2 linked regions of the Homo sapiens genome follow. The protein of the gene in region 1 interacts with the protein of each later gene in a biochemical or structural test. Each region holds a gene or a part of one and is shown on either strand. Other genes may lie near its edges.

Region 1 (8,875 bases):
GGTCTGAAAAACAGAAGCTATCACGTGAAAGGTGAAACCCGTAAAGAAGGGGTGAAAATGAGGGGGACAGGTAATTCAGAAATAAGATCCAGAAGTGAGAAGGTGAGGTAATAGCAACCTGGTGTGTGCAGCATTTCTAAAATGAAAGAGAACAAATAACAGGAACCTGGGGAATTTGAGAACACAAAGAAGCATAGTATCCATGAATTATGAAGAGAAACAGATACAAACTAGAAAGGATTGTAAAAATTATGTGACCAAATAATACTTTGATTGAACCTTCAATATAAAAATATATTTTCATTAGTAAATCCAAGGTGCATTGCAGCTTCTGGAGATTTAAGCTTAGCCTAAAGTCTGAGACACACCTACAGTTTCATTTTCAAAGTAAAACATTCACCTAGTAATAAAATGAGTTTTAATTTTCCTATCAGTGGCATATTTAGGGCATATTTTTGGAAGATTAGTATGCAAAACATCAAGTTTGTCAATTTTTTCCTGTTGCAATATATGACTAACTGAAGTTTTGAAACAGTAAGATAACTTCTATTTATTTTAAAGTTTGCACCTAGAGACAAGAGTTTGACGTATGACGACTGCACATCTGTTTGATAGTGGTGCTTAACATAACCCTGATTTGAAAAAGTGGCATTATTTTGTTCAGTGTGCCTGACAGGAGGGAGAAGGAAAGCTATTTGAGATTAGTTGACTTTAAAATATATGAGTGGAACTAGGAAATGCTAATATCTAACTTCTCAGCCCAACTGCCGGTAATTATTTCACTGGGAGACTTTCAAGTAAAAATTGTGGGACATTTTGGCCAATGGGTTAGCATCTGGATTACAAATTAAGGCGTAATTTTTACCTGAAAAGAGACAGCCGGGCTGAAAGCAAAGTCCGTTAAGAGTGAAACAAGAACTAAGAATAAAATAACACAGACTTGAACTGTGCAATCACTCTGAATATTTAATGGGTGCCACAAGTACCCAGAAGAAACTATTGTTATGTTAATGCAGCACCTGACATACTCTTCTTATTTCATAGGCAAAGTACTAGCTCTGTGATTAGATTGAATTCTCCAACAACAACATCTCAGATTATGGCAAGAAAGAAAAGGAGAGGGGTATGTGATTTTTCCCCCTTTTTATTTCATGTAACTTATACTATTGTGTAACAGTTACATTTTTTCATTTGAGTAATTTTATCATTTGTGAATTCATAAACTTTTGTTGTTTGCTTCTTTTGGATAGATTATAGAGAAAAGGCGTCGGGATCGGATAAATAACAGTTTATCTGAGTTGAGAAGACTTGTGCCAACTGCTTTTGAAAAACAAGTAAGCTATCCCCTCCCCAGAATCCCCCCACCCACCCCGCCACCCCCCAAAAAAAAGCTCAAACACAATCTGATTCGCTCATCTGGGAATGTGGGTTCTTGTTAAAGCTCATTAAAATAATAGTGTATGTGCCCTGATCTGGCACAGAGCAGCTATTTCAATAAAATGCTTTGTTGTGGCAAAACTATTAAAAACATAATCCATCATGAAGTTGAAAAACATTTCCATTCTTTAGCTTATTTTCCCCTTAAGGGTAACAGTGTTCATGCTTTCTCTGTTCTTTCTATGAATACCAGTAGTGGTTTTATTTAAAACTGTGCTGTATACCGTATCCTTCAAAAAAAAAAAAAAAACCATTTTTTTCTCAAAATTTTTTTAAAATGTAATATTTTTAATTAAAAAACAATCAGAGCCCAAGAAGTAACATCTCTAGCTCTATTTCCTAAATGATAATACCACTAAAATTTATTTACCAAGCCATTTGCTTTCATTTTTAATCCCTGGGTTGGTAGAATGCCATTTGATTTGGGTCATCTTTTTAGAAGTTTGGTAAAAATGAAGTTAATCATAAATGCCCCTTTTCATAGTTACCTATTCCTTTACAAAAAAAGAAAGAAAGAAAAAGATTTTGCACACTTAGAAAAGTAGAAAGCCAAATGTTTAAATCTTTTGTGGTTTTAGAAGTCATGGCTCTCCCCCTGCCGCAGTGGTTAATGACACAGATTTCTAAGAGTATCTTTCAAAGGATATGGCAGCATGTCCTTGTTGAAAATACTTTCAGTTTAATTCCAATAAGACAACAGTTGTTTGTTTATTCCATTTTGTTTGTTTACTTCATGAATCTGCAAACATTATAAAACAAGCCCTACAAAGTCCTTGGAAATTATCCAGAAAGTGCAGTTTCAATTATTAGTGACTTTACTGAATCTGCTTGTACCATTTTCATGGAAAAATTAAACGCTGACCAAATACAAAACATAATATGCTACTGATTATACATTTTTAAGACAAAAAGCACACCCAATCTATATGCAGAGACTGTGTTTGATAAACTAAAAATAATGTGGAAATTGTAGTTTTGATTAGTAGCATTTTCAGTGCCAAATAGGCTTCAAGTGAAAATGTCAGTAATCAATGATGTTTTTAAAATTTGGAAGTACTGAAATGTCTGCAGTTATGAGGCGAAGTCTGTTTGATTTTTTTTCTTGGTTTGTTAGATTTTTTTTTTCTTAAATGTTGACTTAAACCTTAAAAGCAAACATCAGTTGTTTGGCAGTTAGTTACCATAAACACAAGCTTTCCCATTTGCAGAGCTTGGCTACCAACCCAAGTGAGTTGGCCCTGTCACAATATGATTAGAAAAGTGTTCTTTAGAGCAGTTAAGTAACTCTGGCACTCTCACCGTACGTGGTGCTGATAATTTTTACAAAACAAGTAAAGCATAGGGACCTGAAATAAACCTTAGTGTCCTTAAAAAAGAAAAAAAAAGAGAACATATTGGTAATTATTTAGCTCTTCCAGGAAATGAGAAGCCACCCACAGTCCCCGAGACAGCTTGAAATGGCACATTTGTATTTCAATTGGTTACCAGAGGTTTCCTTATTCTGAAAGCAGGGACATAAAAATATATTTGCAAGACAATTTTATTAAGAACTATTTTAAAAGGTTCAAAAATCCTTAAGCATTTATGATGCTTCCTAGGTAAGCAGTAAATTATTGCTTCTTGTTTGTGAGCTTAGAAATTCACAGTGACACCTGCTGGTAATTATTGGGGAAAAAAACCTTAAAAGTCGTCCTTTTTAAAATTTTTGGATCTGCTTGAAATGCAGATCCAATTATATGGTTCTAGTGTGAATACCTTATTTCAGGACTTAGTAGGCCTGTGAAAGGACTTATTGGAGTTTTCTATTTTAAAAATATTTAACAATCAATTGCTAAAATCCTATCTCCTTATCTTCTGGAGTTGTTATGCAACTCCTCTAGACTTTGGCTTTATAGAAGACTATTGATGCCCCATAGTAAAACATATTATTAACCAAGACACAGATTGAATGCAAAGTTTGAGATTTTTACAACTGAAATCATTTTGCTGTGGTGATCTTAGGAGAATAATTATTCTTATGATTTAAAAAAGTCATTCTAGTTTCTTTTAGTCTTTAAAAGTTAAAATGGCAAATACTTGTCATTAGGTATGACATTAATTAGTGCTTTCATGTAAAGTTTGGAAAGAATTCGAAGTTTTCTGTGAAAAAATAAAAGTTGGGATTGTCTAGTGAGAGGGAAATTGAAGCCATAATGCTAAATTCAGTGTATAATGTTTCAGATTAGTTTCTGTAGGACATAGGATTATTTATTTATTTATTTATTTATGAAGGGATCTGCAAAGTTAGAAAAAGCTGAAATATTGCAAATGACAGTGGATCATTTGAAGATGCTTCAGGCAACAGGGGGTAAAGGTAAGTAGATGACTTCATTTTTTTTTTTTTTTGCCTTTTTTACCTTTCTCTTTTCATGTTATTCCCCCTAATATTGTAAGGAAGTCATAGCTGAACAGTTCTTTAACAAGCTGAGATAGGAGGCCCCAGATTAAAGCCATGGAAATCAATGCTAATGGCAGGATTGAACTCGTGGGAAAGAACTTTTGGAACAAAAGAAGCACTTGACCCTGGGCTTGTGTTTGCTTTCATAATACTGTGGGAGTAAAGCTTCATTCACAGCAGCCTGGTCAGAGATTTGTTTAGGACTTAAGAAGCGCATGCTGGAATCTGTACAGAAAGAACAAAAAACAAACACACAAACATCCAAACATAAACAGGAGGTTAGAGGTAATCCTTTTCTCCTCCTTCTGCTTCTTTCTTCCTACTCCTTCTCCTCCTCTGTCTTCATTAAATGAAGGCTAAGACTGAAAATAATTCAGCTATTCCAAAGGAATTGACTCTAGAGTTATTTTCATTATTGTTTTCAGATTTTTGCTTGGTCTTGAATTTAGACCAAACAGAACAGTTGAAGTGCAGGTAGGAAGTCTCTACACCAGAAGCCATTAATGGAGCAGAGTCATTCTTGGGGAAAGCAAACAGGAGCAGGCACTCCAGGTCCAGGGCCCTAGAGAGGTGTCCTCTGTACTGGATAGTGACTTAGGGAGTAATTGTCGAGGTGGTGAGAGAGGATCTCATCTCATGCTAAAAACAGCCTTGAGATCCTAGTTCACTCAGATTTCATTATCCCACTTACACATCACAACTCAGACTTGATTTTGTTCCTCTGAATCTTTTTCATCCTTCAAAGAATCCTTTGATATTCACCTTAGCCAAGGGTGTTATTCAGTATATTTAACAACTGAATAAGGAGAAGGTATCAGAAGGATTTAAGGGCTCCAACTAAATCCTGAAGGCCTCCCGGTGCTCAGCATTAACCTTTTACTACACTGTATACGGGTCCTAGATCAGGGCAGAGGCAGGACATTGGAGGGAAGCAACTGTTACCAATATTTAACTCCTGTATGGCCATACCATTGAGGATCTCTAGAACATCAGCCCTGATCTTAACCATCTTTTTCCTGCGTCTAGTAGGGAGGGAGGGTAACCATTGTACAGAGAAGCCCCAATGGGTTGACTTTTCCCAGATTGTACCTTCTCAAGGAACCATCCTGAATGATGGCATGAAATGCAAACATTCTTACATAATAGAAAAGATAACTGGATTAAATCACAGAAGCCAATGATCCAGCCTAGCTTGACCACTGCTGTGCCTCTGACCTAAGAAAAAAGTCTGGGCTGCACTTTGAGGGCTACACTAGCAGCATGAGCGCCAAGGGCCCCTGCAGCTCCATGATTCTGTCTCTACAACTGCTACCTCAGGATGTTAGGATACTGATTGAATTAGTCATGCTACAAGAAAATTTGTTTGATTGCTTTACTTCCCTTAGCATTGTTAGCCACAAGGCTAAGTTTTCTCATTAGGGTTTCAAATATTTGGCATGAGCTGTACTTCTAAAGAGTAATATTGTTCTTAGGCTTTATTATAAAAACTAAGTTCCATCTTGGTTGCTATTCTTGGCCACCTAGACAGTCCTAAAATTTGTCCCAGAATAGTTTGTGAACAGATATTTCCAAGTAGGCTCCATACACGTCACCTGACTGTCAGGCCATTGAAGAGGTCATTGCACTGGAGAATGGCCTTCAAGAAGGGAGCTGGCGGCTGGGTGTGGTGGCTCATGCCTGTAATCCCAGCACTTTGGGAGGCCGAGGTGGGCGGATCACCTGAGGTCCAGAGTTTCAGACCAGCCTGACCAACATGGAGAAATCCCGTTTCTACTAAAAATACAAAATTAGCTGGGCATGGTGGTGCATGCCTGTAATCCCAGCTACTCAGGAGGCTGAGGCAGGAGAATTGCTTGAACCCGGGAGGCAGAGGTTGTGGTGAGCCGAGATCGCGCCATTGCACTCCAGCCTGGGCAATAAGAGTGAAACTCCATCTCAAAAAAAATAGAAAAAATAAAAAGAAGGGAGCTGGCTGTTTGGGTTAACATTGTAAAAGAATACCAACTGCCTCATAGTGCAGTGGTGAAGGGCATCGTATCTGTAGCTGGATTGCCTGATTTCAAATCCTGGTTCTGCCACTGATTAGCTCTGTGACTTTGGGCAAATTACCCCCTGCGAGCTGGTCCAGTTTTATCATCTGTAAAAAGAGGACAGTTGTAGTGTCCATACTATATAACTCATAAGGCTGTTACAAGTTAATTCACTTAAGGCCGATAGAATAGTGCTGGTGTAGAGGGAGTGGTATGGACATGTATGTTACTGTTGGCCCAAGATCCATTCACAAAAGGGAGCTACTTATCATCATTTCCCTCTGAAGTCCACAATAGGATAGGAATTGCATAATTTATATTCCTTTAAGATATAACAGAGAGCTCAGCCATATATGACAACATAGCAGGCAAACCACAAATTTCAATTACTTCATGACCAGTAATGAAAATTCTTAGAAGCTCTTGGGGCTCCAATTCTGTTAGTTCATTCTTTATAGTCTGTCTTGGTATGACAATAGTATCTAGAGAGGATTTAGTAGAATAACCTAAGTTTCGAAATCCCTCTGGATTTCTGGACTCTGTCTATTCTATTCATTACCCCCGTCTTTCTCTCATGGGAGTCAGAAGTCTGCAAAGCCCTACAGAACCCTGAGGACCAAAATGTGAAATCTTTCCATGAATACCTCTTCTTCAGGAATAGCTTTTCATCCTAATCCAAGAGGCTCTGTTTGTTAACTATGTCAGAGTCCTGGGATGATAACTGTTTTTGCTGCTGATCTTCCGTATTTCATGATATTCTCTTGGTATCAGCTTTGTACTGCTGTTGTTTCTGTTTTAGTAGTGTATATATTTGCCACAAATATCTTTTGGGAACTTCCAAATCGTTGGAATTTTAGCTTTAGGACTCTTAATATATGTGACTACTATCTCCAAAGTTCTTTGATTACAGATTAAGATAGCCAAATTTTTAATAGGTGATGAATAAACAGGTAATGCTTTGATCAGCAAAAACATAGATAATGTAAATGTTTTAGATAAAAATAACTGCTGGGTGTGGTGGCTCACGCCTGTAATCCCAGCACTTTGGGAAGCCGAGGCAGGAGAATGGCTTGAGTTCAGGAGGTCTAGACCAGTCTGAGCAACATAGCGAGATCTTGTCTGTACTAAAAATCACACAGATTAGCCAAGTGTGGTGGCACATGCCTATAGTCCCAGCTACTCAGGAGGCTGAGGCAGGAAGATCACTTAACCCCAGGAGATGGAGCCTGCAGTGAGCTGTGATTGGGCCACTGCACTCCAGCCTGGGTGACAGAGTGAAATCCTGTCTCAAAGATAAATAAATTAATAAATAACCTTATTTGAATGTGATATTTCTTATTCATGTATATACACATCCCCAAAATGAATAGACCAAACTTTTGATTTGGAAATTACTTTTTAAAAAGTTGTAAATGAAAAATAATCTGTTTTTATATACCAGACGTCACTCATTCAAAGTGGGCAACATTTCTCCATATGTCTGATTATTATTGTGCCCTACATGCCCTACATGGGCACTCCAATAATTAGACATTATTATTTTCTATTCTAATGTATTATCTTCAGACAGAGACTCAGATAAATGTGACCAAGCTCTAGCCATTTTTATGGTAGTAACCATAGGTATAGGAGTGCATGCATATACACTGACAAAATTAATATACATTTTTTTTCTTGGGTGTATGCTAGAAAAATGTAAGGACATATATTTGAACTTCAGATAAACTAGGCGTTGACATATAGTATTTTCATATCAGGAACTTAGCCTTATATTACTGACAGAAATATAAGATCTTCAAGTAAGAAACCAAATTTTTTTTAAAAACTCATTTTGTTTTCATTAAATTTTTTATACAAAGTTATGACAAGATGGTTTCACTTTGTTGATAAAAAACATTGTTAGTCAAGAAGCAGTTATGAATTTATTGCGATTCTAGCACATTTCTAAAGTCCTCAAGCTGCTAAGATGCACTTGGCATCTCTGTTAAAATGCCAAGAGAGTAAAGATGTTTCAGATAAGCCCTTTAATCTCCAACTCATGTGACAGAGACAGAGAGACTGGAACTCTGTATTTCCATGAAAAAGTTTCCTGGAGAATTTCACTATCCCACAATACAAAGGGAGAGACCCCATTTCTTTCTCTGGAAGTGTTTGAAACGCGGATGTTCTTAATTTTTTTCCCCACTGTGATATTTAGCTGCAAGAACAACTGTAGCATATTGCATTGCCAGAGTTGTCACACATGTGAGTGGCAAAGTATACTTTCTTAACTTCTGCAAAAAATTAAAACCATAAATAGCTGGCAATATTTCCAGAAAGGATTATCGTTCCACTTCAGTCTTCTGAAGGACAGAGTGGAACATCAGTGGGTGGTTATTGTTGACTATACCATTTTCTCACCCCTACCTCCCGCCCATCTCTCTCCTGTTCCCTACTTTGCTCAAACCCACTTTTAGGCTACTTTGACGCACACGCTCTTGCCATGGACTTCATGAGCATAGGATTCCGAGAGTGCCTAACAGAAGTTGCGCGGTACCTGAGCTCCGTGGAAGGCCTGGACTCCTCGGATCCGCTGCGGGTGCGGCTTGTGTCTCATCTCAGCACTTGCGCCACCCAGCGGGAGGCGGCGGCCATGACATCCTCCATGGCCCACCACCATCATCCGCTCCACCCGCATCACTGGGCCGCCGCCTTCCACCACCTGCCCGCAGCCCTGCTCCAGCCCAACGGCCTCCATGCCTCAGAGTCAACCCCTTGTCGCCTCTCCACAACTTCAGAAGTGCCTCCTGCCCACGGCTCTGCTCTCCTCACGGCCACGTTTGCCCATGCGGATTCAGCCCTCCGAATGCCATCCACGGGCAGCGTCGCCCCCTGCGTGCCACCTCTCTCCACCTCTCTCTTGTCCCTCTCTGCCACCGTCCACGCCGCAGCCGCAGCAGCCACCGCGGCTGCACACAGCTTCCCTCTGTCC
Region 2 (9,662 bases), on another chromosome or scaffold:
CTTTTGGAGAAAAGAGCACAGAAGTTTTGAATGAATCTCCAGACCCTGTCCCTGAGATAGCAAGGCTTAGATGGACAAGCCTGGAGTGGACAGCTTGCATTGTGCCCCATGGGGACTCTGCCAGAGAAGCGCATGATCCTTAAGACAGAGATATGGCTCAGTCCTGTATTCCAGGAGAAAGTAGACTCAATGTTTGCTCATGAAATGTCCCTGCGTCCAGCTCTGCTGGTCGTGTCCCTGGCGAAGACTCCCCACCTATGTAGCCAGCAGCATCTGTCCTTGGATACACCATCCCGGCTCTAGCTTTTCCCCAGTAATCAGCTGGCTTTCGCTGGCAGGAGGACCCAGGAGATAGGTAAAGTGGGTTGATTCAGTCCTTGCTGTGGAATTCAGATTAGACTGGGAAAGGAAAAAATTCTCCTGACCAGGGATGCAACAGTCAGGCAGTGAGAATGACCTTCGTGACAATGAGCCGAGATAAGCCTCTTGGCATGAAACAGCTCGGCAGGCAATGATCAGTGGTCTAGGGATTGGCTACAAGTGGCCCGACCCGACCCGGGGAGCAACCGAGCACCAGGAAACTAACCAGCATGTGAGGAACAAAAAAAATCTCCCAATATGCCGAAAACAGCCTGGTGCACAGCAAAACTTCGTTAACAGGCGGCCTGGAGCTGAGTGCTGTGAAGCTGACCAGAATGAAATTGCCCTGAAAGCAACGGGACTGGGTAAAAGAAACCGGAGTAAAATCCACCTGCCTGCTAGTGTGCAACTAACCACTGCGAGGGATGGGAGAAGGGAGGGTCTCGGAGGGCCGCAGGGTGGACCGGGAGGAGACAGGACTCCTGGTGTTCTGGAGAACCTGACCGAGCTGCTTCGGGGATGGGGGAGGGAGGTGTCCAGTGCCTTTTGATTTACAATCGCTGCGCCCCAAGCGATCCCATAAATTTGGGGGCCGTTTTCACCAAAACCGTGAGTTACGATTTTTCAAATAAATACATTTTCCAATCAGACCGGGTTCTGTTTAGGTTGAACGCGTCCCGAAGCAGACATCTCTCTGTGCGGAAAATACACAGAGGAGGAAACGGAGCCGGGACGAAGCTCAGACGACATAAAAACTTATGTAAACACATTGTCATTTACGGGCTTCGGAAGAGAAAGAGAATGAGGGGAGGAAGACAGAAAAAGTTGGGGGAAACACATACATGTTTAATTCTCCCTCGAATCCTCAGGTCCTAGCCCAGAGGGAGGTTAGAAAATGTAATATTCTTTTTCCATAAGCTTGATTTATGTTACTCATTGGACAATAGGCAGCAGCAGGTTTACCTTAAATAGATTTTGTATTTTTGAGGCCTGTTACAGGCCTGAGAATGAGCACAAATGACCCCCCCCCCTCGTACACACACACAGCCACACACATATATGCATAGGCACTCTCTCCTAGTTTTTCTTTAAGAAAGAGCGTGGAGGAGATAAACCAAAATGAATTATTTTAGCAGGGGAGGGTCGTCGATTTCTATCTGTGTGCCCTTGGGCAAGTCTCTCCCCATCCTCTGGGCCTGTGTTTTGCCCGTAATCAGGGGCTACCGTTGCGCAGAAAAGCATTGACACATAATTCTGTGCACAATGGCAAGAACCTCCTGGCCAAAATGTAAAGAACGTCACTTCCTGCTTGGACCCTTTCTGGCCTGACCACCCTCGTCTCAGGAAAGAAGGTAATAAGGGGAGACAGAGGCTGCTGTTCACCCCAGGTCCCCTCTGGAGATCTGGGCTTTAGCCGCGCGTCTGCCACTCATCGGCCGTGTGCCCTTAGGAAAGTTCCTTCCCCTCTCTGGGCTAGTTTCCCGTCTGCAAACAGAACCTTGGAGCTCCCAGGAGCAATCTACTCCGTGCCTATCTCTTCCCTGCCCCGACTGTCCCCCATCCCTGGGAGCAGGCTGGGCCAGATTGGAAAGTCCTAGGTCCTCTTCAGACATGGCAGAGAAATGTTTAAGGGATTTGCGCGCTCAAGCTGCGGGGTAAATGGTCCGCGGGCTGATTTATGGCGCGTTACTGCGCGACGCGATTCCCCAAGACAGCGAGAATATTTTACACCGCGCTAATATAAACAGGCGGCCGGCCGGGTCCTTTTTATGGAGTTCCTGTAATTACCCGGGCCCTGACAGGTCCTTGATTTACTGCCCTATTTAGATAAGGGGTCCGGTGCGGGGATTGCCCGTGGCGTCAAGGTCACGGGACTGCGGCGGGAGAAGGTTTTGCGGTAGGCGCCGCGGCCTGGGCTTCCAGAGGCCTGCCAGTCCGGGGGGCGCGGATAGGGGTGAGGGTAGGAGAGGGGCTAGGGCAAGAGCGAGACCCCACCACTGCAGAACGTCCAGGCTTGAGGGACCTTCGCATTGCCCGGGTACAGCTGTCCTACTGTTATGGTTGGGGGAACTGAGTCCCGTAGGTGACAAGACTGCACCCCCCACCAAGTCATTTAGGGAGGGACATGGGGGTGGAGGGTGGAATCTGGAACTGGAATTCGGGTCTCTGGCAACATAATTCCTACACCTGGCGATGTCTCTGTATCTCCAGTCTTATGATGGCTGGGTTGTGTAGGGTCAGTAGGGAATGGGAAGGAACCTAAGGCAGTCAGAAGCAGCTAGGTCAGGTCAGAACAGAGCCCTGCAAGGAGGATTCAGTGTCCTGGTCCTTCTCCCCATCCAGAGCTTTGTAGTCATGTGGCGGCATGTAATTCCATTTCCGCCCCTATGAAATTAATATTCCTAAAAACAGAGCCACCATTTATCCAGGTTTACTGTCACTGTGCTAAGAGCCTCGCCTTGTGCTTACTCTTACGCCAGCCCTCCACAGAGGTTATTATTGTCCTCCAATTTACAGAAGAGAAAACTGAGGTGTAGAAGCTTCACACAGGGAGGAATGATGTGCACAGTTTTAACTCAGATGGGCCCGATTCCATAGCAAGGTGGAATGTGTTTTATGTGCATAAGCCCTCTACTTTGTAAAACAGGGTAAAGAAGAGTTCCTGCCGGGTCTCACCACTACAACTGGGGGAAGAAACGAGAAGCCTGCATTTGAAAATACTAAGAAGGCCAACCCCCCTGAAGGCACTCTTTAGGTGAGCAAGGTTCGTTAAGAGGAGGCTGCAGGGGCAGTGTGGGCTAGGACCCTGGGAGTTCTAGTCCTTGGTCTGTTGAGGTAGGCAAGAGGAAAGCGGAGTCCTTCTGTAGGGATCCCTGAGCTGAGCACTAAGTCCCAGGAGGAACCAGGGCAGGGTCCCTGCAATAGTGAGGAGCTGGGAATTCCAGAATTCCAGACTATCAATCCTATTCCCTTCTTCTGCAACTGGGGAAACTGAGGCTCGGACTGGAAAGGAACAAAGAGGTGCTAGATAGGGAAAGCCAGGACTCTTGCCTGTCACATCTCTTGCCTGCCAGCCTAAAGCAATTTTAGCCAAAATCCTAGGTCTCAGACCTCCTCCTACAATATAGCTTGGGCAGAGATAGAGAACAACCTTACAAGGTCCCCACCATCCCGGGAGTTCTGCTGCTCTCCACGGACTACAGTAAAGCATTTTGGGGTCTCTGAGAAGGCAGTCTAGAGCCTAGTTGTACTGCAGTCTCCCCCGACGTCATCCTGCTGGGGGTTGCCCCAGCCCCAAGCCTCAGGAGATCCCTTAGGGCTGAGTTTCTGGTGGGGGCACCGCTTGAAAAATGACACTGAATACCTTCTCTAGGTTGGGGAACAGTGCTTTCCACATCACTGGCAGCTGGAGACACCCTGCTCTTTAAGACCCATGGGGGGCTGCCAGGTAGTCTCAGGGGCCCTCAAGGGGTGTCATAGGACTGGGACTCCTCACCCAGTACTGATAATGCATTCCCCACCACACTAACCAGGCCAGATATATGGGGGATGTATACAACCTTGAGTGATCTGTGTAACATCATAAAAGCAACTAGGACTCATATGGGCAGGCGCGTGGGCCACACATTTGTATGTGTGTTATGTGTGAGCATGTGAGAACCTCTATTTGTGAGCACCTGTGCATATGTAGTAGATATTGTGACTGTGTACTTGTGCACTGAAGGCTTAGCGGTGACACTGAGAATATACAAAATGTATGATGGGATTTTGGAAGTTTGTGTTGCGAATACAATTGTGGAGAATCTTAGGAAGATACAAGCTGGTTTAAATTGTGGCAATGAGATTATGTGTGAAACCCTGCATTTGTGTAGTATTCAGAATTTATGTGTTTCTACCATATGACTTTGGTCTCTGTGCATGCCTGAATGGAGGATTGGGAGCGGCTCCCAGGTGTAACACATCTGAAGCGTGATGAGTATGTACCCTGTGGGTGACAGAGAGACAATGTGTAAAATCCTAGGAATGCATGAATGCTGTGTGTACCGTGGCTGTGCGTATTACTGTGAGAATACACATACTTTTGGGCGTCTTATGAAGATACGGGCTTTTGTGTACGGCGGCAAGGTTTTGTGAGCCCTTGTGCATGTACCTGTGAATGTATAATCTGAGGGCCTAGTGTGCCGCTCTGAGAGGCACTGTTGCAGATTGTACTTGGATTAGGACAAAGACTGGGCGTGTGTTGAGGATTGTGTGTTGAGGTCCTTCTCTCCACAGCGTAATTACTCTCTACCTGCGCTCTTTCTAGAATGCCTCCAGGCCAGGGAGGCTTGGGACCCCGCAGAGCCGCCGCAGCAGCGGGCCCCCAGCGCTCCCTCCCCGCGTGCCTCCGGCTCCGCGCTCTGCCCTACCCCAGCGCTGCTGGCGCCAGGCGCCGGGGAGAGCGGGGGGTTTCCAGCCCGCCTCGGGCAGGAAACCAGGACCTCCCTGCACCACCCCCCCATGCACCTCCAGGGCCCACAGCCCTGCTGAGCTCCCACAGGTGGAACCAGCAGGCCCAGGCTTTTGTCTCCGTCACTCCTGTATGTAACCCCCCACCCTTCATTCACTCTCTTGTCCAGGAGTGGAATTCCACTCATCCACTCCCTACCGGACCTCGAGAAAATCGCTCTTCTTCTCTGGGCTTCACGTTCCATATCTGTTCAAGGAGAGAATGGGCCTTTCTCCCTCTGTCTTTGGACTAGTAACTATGATAGGCACATAGTAGGCATCAATAAATAATTGTTGAATGAATGGGTGAATGATTTGCCTTCTAAAAAGAGCACTCACATTAACTTCTCCTTTCCCCCTCCCCTCGACTTTGCTTTGAAGAGAGGCACACTCCCTCTACCACACCGAGGGAGGGGGCGTTGAGCTGAGAAAGGTTGAGAGAATGAGGGACCCAGGTAGGTGGACATCGGCCAAGAAAGGAACCACAGCGGGAGGTAAGACCGAGAGTCCCCAGCTTGAAGCGTCACCACTCCGGGATTCCCAGATTCCAACGCGAGCCTGGGGAAAGCCCACAGTGGAGAGAGTCCGGCTGGCAGGGAATGGCCCTACCCCCGGGGTGAAATCTCGGAGGGTCGTGCAGCCGAGTCGCGCCTCTGCGCTGATGCGTGAGAGATGCCGGACGTCGCGTTTGCCTGTGCGAGCCTCGCGGATGCTGTGCAGTCTTGGTCCCCTCTGCGTGTGTCTAACGCCGAATGCTGGTGTCTCGAGGTGTGAGCTTCGGGGCCGGTGTCTTTAAAGAACCAAAGATTCTTAAGGAGTGATGATCTGGGTAGAGCGGCCCGACGTAGCCGCGCTCCCAGGTCTCGGTGCGAGTCCTGCGGACAGACCAGAGGAGACCTGCTGGCCAGATGCCCCGGGCCCAAGGCGGACGCCAGACTGTCTCTGCGCCAGCCGGGCTGGCCTTCGGAATGGATCAGGCACCCGGGAGGCCGGAGTGGATCTCAGACCCTCAAGCCGGGAACAAACCCGTCGATGCCCGTGGGCCTGGAGTCCGCCTCCTCCTTCCCGCCCCACCCCTACCCCTGCCTCCGAAAGGCTTCTTCGCTGGTCAGTAGCTGCGTGCCCGTCTGCCTGAGGCTGGGTCAGAATTGGCGGGCTGGTAACGACCCCGTGCACAAGCGGCTCCCAGTCTCTCCAGAAAGGGCCGATGACTAAGGGGTGGGGGTGGGGGCGGAGGGCTGGAAGGTGTTAGGGAAGAACGTTAGCGGCCTATCCTGTCTTCAGCAGCGCCCTCTCATCTTCTAGCTCTGACGCCGAGCAGAGCAGTTGGAGCTCGGGACTGGGAACTGCTGGAATTCCTATTTAGACTTCTAGACAGTCTAGAAACAAGAACCTTTCTTTCCCTGGGCCTCAGTTTCCTTGTCTGTAAAATCAAAAGGCGGGCTCTAGGTGTAGGCCTTCTTTTCGCTTGGTGATTCTGGATTCCTTTCCTTGGATCCGTGGGGAGGGGGTGGCAGCAACAGTCCAGGGCGTTGGCCGTCCTGTGCCTCAAGTACGTAGTCCCCGTGCCCGCCCCCTCAACACCCCCAGCAGCCCGCCCCCCTAAGCCCGCAGAGCAGGGAGCTGAGTGGGAGGGGCAGAGGCGGGGCCGGTTCCCAGTCCCTGCTGGCGGACTAGAGTGGCGCGGGCTGAGCGTAAAACCTGGGATAGCCACTCCCCCTTTTCCTTATCCCCGCCCCCCTGCCATTGGCTCCCGGGAGAGGTTGACATCAAAGCCGCGGTCTTATATAAGCCAGATCCGCAGGGGAGTCCGCAGAAGGGTTAAACAGGTCTTTGGGCTTCGGCGACCTCGCCCGCGGCAGAAACCGGTAAGAAGACAGTGGGCTGCGCGTCTCATTTTCAGCCTTGCCCGGACTCTCCCAAAGCCGGCGCCCAGTAGTGGCTCCAGAGCCCACAGGTGGCCCCCGGCAGTCTCTGGGGCGCATGGAGCGGCGTTAATAGGGCTGGCGGCGCAGGCCAGTAGCCGCTCCAACATGAACCTCGTGGGCAGCTACGCACACCATCACCACCATCACCACCCGCACCCTGCGCACCCCATGCTCCACGAACCCTTCCTCTTCGGTCCGGCCTCGCGCTGTCATCAGGAAAGGCCCTACTTCCAGAGCTGGCTGCTGAGCCCGGCTGACGCTGCCCCGGACTTCCCTGCGGGCGGGCCGCCGCCCGCGGCCGCTGCAGCCGCCACCGCCTATGGTCCTGACGCCAGGCCTGGGCAGAGCCCCGGGCGGCTGGAGGCGCTTGGCGGCCGTCTTGGCCGGCGGAAAGGCTCAGGACCCAAGAAGGAGCGGAGACGCACTGAGAGCATTAACAGCGCATTCGCGGAGTTGCGCGAGTGCATCCCCAACGTGCCGGCCGACACCAAGCTCTCCAAGATCAAGACTCTGCGCCTAGCCACCAGCTACATCGCCTACCTGATGGACGTGCTGGCCAAGGATGCACAGTCTGGCGATCCCGAGGCCTTCAAGGCTGAACTCAAGAAGGCGGATGGCGGCCGTGAGAGCAAGCGGAAAAGGGAGCTGGTGAGTCCTGGGGCTTGCATGCTCCAGCCAAGGGTGCAGGAGCGGTGAGCAGCCTCAGGCCATGCAGGTAGTCGAAGGAGGCTGTGTTGTCCTGTGTCCGATTTGGAAAGGTTGGGAAGAGTTCTGAGATGGTTGGTCACAGCGTGCGATCCTGTGCATGGAGGGAGGCAGATTCGTCATAGAATTCATTTGTAATACGGGAGAGTGTTTGTAATACTGAGTGAATAATCTGTTTGGAGCCTCGGACCCTCCAAAAATGCACACACCACAGGTTTTGCTTCCAATTTGGAGAAGTCCTGATTCATTCCTGGGCTCTCCTGGAAGCCAGGTTAAGAATATGTGTTAAAGTTCTTTACTTTGAGTTTGAATTTATGTGCCCGGGCTCGGTTCCTGTTTTCAAAGGGCCTTTGCTGGACCGGCTAGTCTACTTCCATCATTGTATAAATAGGGAAACTGAGGGCCCAGAGTGGGTCGGGGCAGGAAAAGCACCTATCTGAGGAGTCCAGGGTGGAGGTGAGGTAAAACAGATCGGGTCTTCTACTCAGTCCAGGGCCAGTTCTGGTTCTCCCCATGGACTGGTTCTGAGGACGACTTCAGTGGCTTTGCATGTAAATAAGAGCCACTTCTTTTAGCTTTGGAGAGCGCAGTCTCGTCTTGGCCTTCTTGATCCTCTCCGGTTAGGGTGACACTTCCTGGCACTCGGTCTGGCTGTCCGGGGCTGGGGGCTTCTGAGCGCTGGGTTTTCAGGCTGGCCAATCAGTTTCTCTAGGTTGGGGGGCTTAAGGCCGTAGCGGAGTGGAGCCAGCTGAAGCGCCCCACCTGGTTTATCCAACCTGCGGGGGCCTGTGGTAAACTGACGAAAGCTCATCCAGGGACGAGGGAAAGATAAATAGGCATCGAGTCTCTAAACGGCTGCCCCGGACTGGGGATGGTGCAGGCCGGCTTCTTTCGAGGTGCGGCGCCTCGAAAGAAGTTGTTATTGGGCGGATCCCGGCCCCCACGCGTCGCCGCCTCCTTCAAGTAGCACCGCTTGGTTCCTGCTGAAAGAGCGGGAAGGAGGACGCTAGGCCAGCTCGACTCCCCGCTCTTTTACCTCCGTATCTGAGGCTCCCAGCTCCGGCTTAGGGGGCCCCAAGCCTGCATCCAAGCCCTGATGTTTAAACCAGGTTGGGAGGCTGGCGGAAGTGTGTGGGGTGCAGCGAGAGCGGGAGAACCGTGGATTTCCACCCCTCCCTTCCAATATCCTGGGATCTCCCTTAGGTGTCCTAAAGCCAAATCAACGCGCGTCAGTTTCACCAGACGCAGAACATTTTCCTTACCAAACCTCCCGAAGCTGCCCAGCCCATCCCGGGTCCCAGGAACTCCGCGCATAAAGGCAAATTTACGAGCCTGTTTGCCTATTTCGCAAACAGAAATCCGTCACTTATTTAAAGACTCCCAGTTACTGCTCCCGACACCTTCCCCTCCTCCTCATCTTACCCCATGCCGGGCGATCGGAGCAGAAAAATTAAAACCTGTCTCTCCCGCCTCTTTTCTTCTGTGTGTCCTTTGGCAGCAGCAGCACGAAGGTTTTCCTCCTGCCCTGGGCCCAGTCGAGAAGAGGATTAAAGGACGCACCGGCTGGCCGCAGCAAGTCTGGGCGCTGGAGTTAAACCAGTGAGCCGAGGCCCGCGCCGAGGACCTGGCCAGGCCAGCCACTCCTGAAGCCCCGGGAGGAGAGGAAGGCAGCGGCGAACGCCAGGCTCTGGGCTCCGGCGACTGGTGCTACGCATCCCGCGGAGCTTCTGCTGAGCGCCGGCAGGTCGTCGGCTGCAACCACACACTTGGATCGCACGTGCAATGTCCTTTGATTTTTTTTAATACATTAAGAGAAAGAGAAATATATATATATCCACCCCCAGCCCAACCGAGGGCGGCCCTTGGCGGCAACATGCAAGAAGGAGGGACTGTCGAACCCAAGGGCTCAAAGACGCACTCTTCCACCCTTTTGGAGCGAATTTAGAACCTCAGCCCTATCTCCATTTCCCTATCTGGCTCTTTCTCTCTTGTCCCTCCATATGATCCGCCCCGACGCCGTCTTCTCTAATTAAAATGCAATAAGGAATCAATTCTTTTCTGCCTGAGAAAGAGAACCAGACGCAGGAAGATGAAAGGCTGCCCTTTGTTCTTCGAATCGTGGTGGTTTTATTTTATTTTTCTTTTTGTCGCTGCACTTCCTGTTTAGTTCCAAGGGAAACA

What was found.
Region 2: the proteins of HEY2 (region 1) and HAND1 form a complex in vitro, tested with the Homo sapiens proteins (one study listed by BioGRID).

What each region holds. Positions count from the first base shown.
Region 1 is NC_000006.12:125,750,757-125,759,631, forward strand, and holds part of HEY2 (hairy/enhancer-of-split related with YRPW motif protein 2), read left to right. Parts: exon of another isoform or gene 1-770; intron 771-1,044; coding exon 1,045-1,123; intron 1,124-1,250; coding exon 1,251-1,334; intron 1,335-3,708; coding exon 3,709-3,790; intron 3,791-8,360; coding exon 8,361-8,875. UniProt on the Homo sapiens protein: Downstream effector of Notch signaling which may be required for cardiovascular development. Transcriptional repressor which binds preferentially to the canonical E box sequence 5'-CACGTG-3'.
Region 2 is NC_000005.10:154,475,228-154,484,889, reverse strand, and holds the start of HAND1 (heart- and neural crest derivatives-expressed protein 1), read left to right. Parts: upstream 1-6,662; 5' UTR 6,663-6,881; coding exon 6,882-7,424; intron 7,425-8,979; coding exon 8,980-9,084; 3' UTR 9,085-9,662. UniProt on the Homo sapiens protein: Transcription factor that plays an essential role in both trophoblast giant cell differentiation and in cardiac morphogenesis. Binds the DNA sequence 5'-NRTCTG-3' (non-canonical E-box). Acts as a transcriptional repressor of SOX15.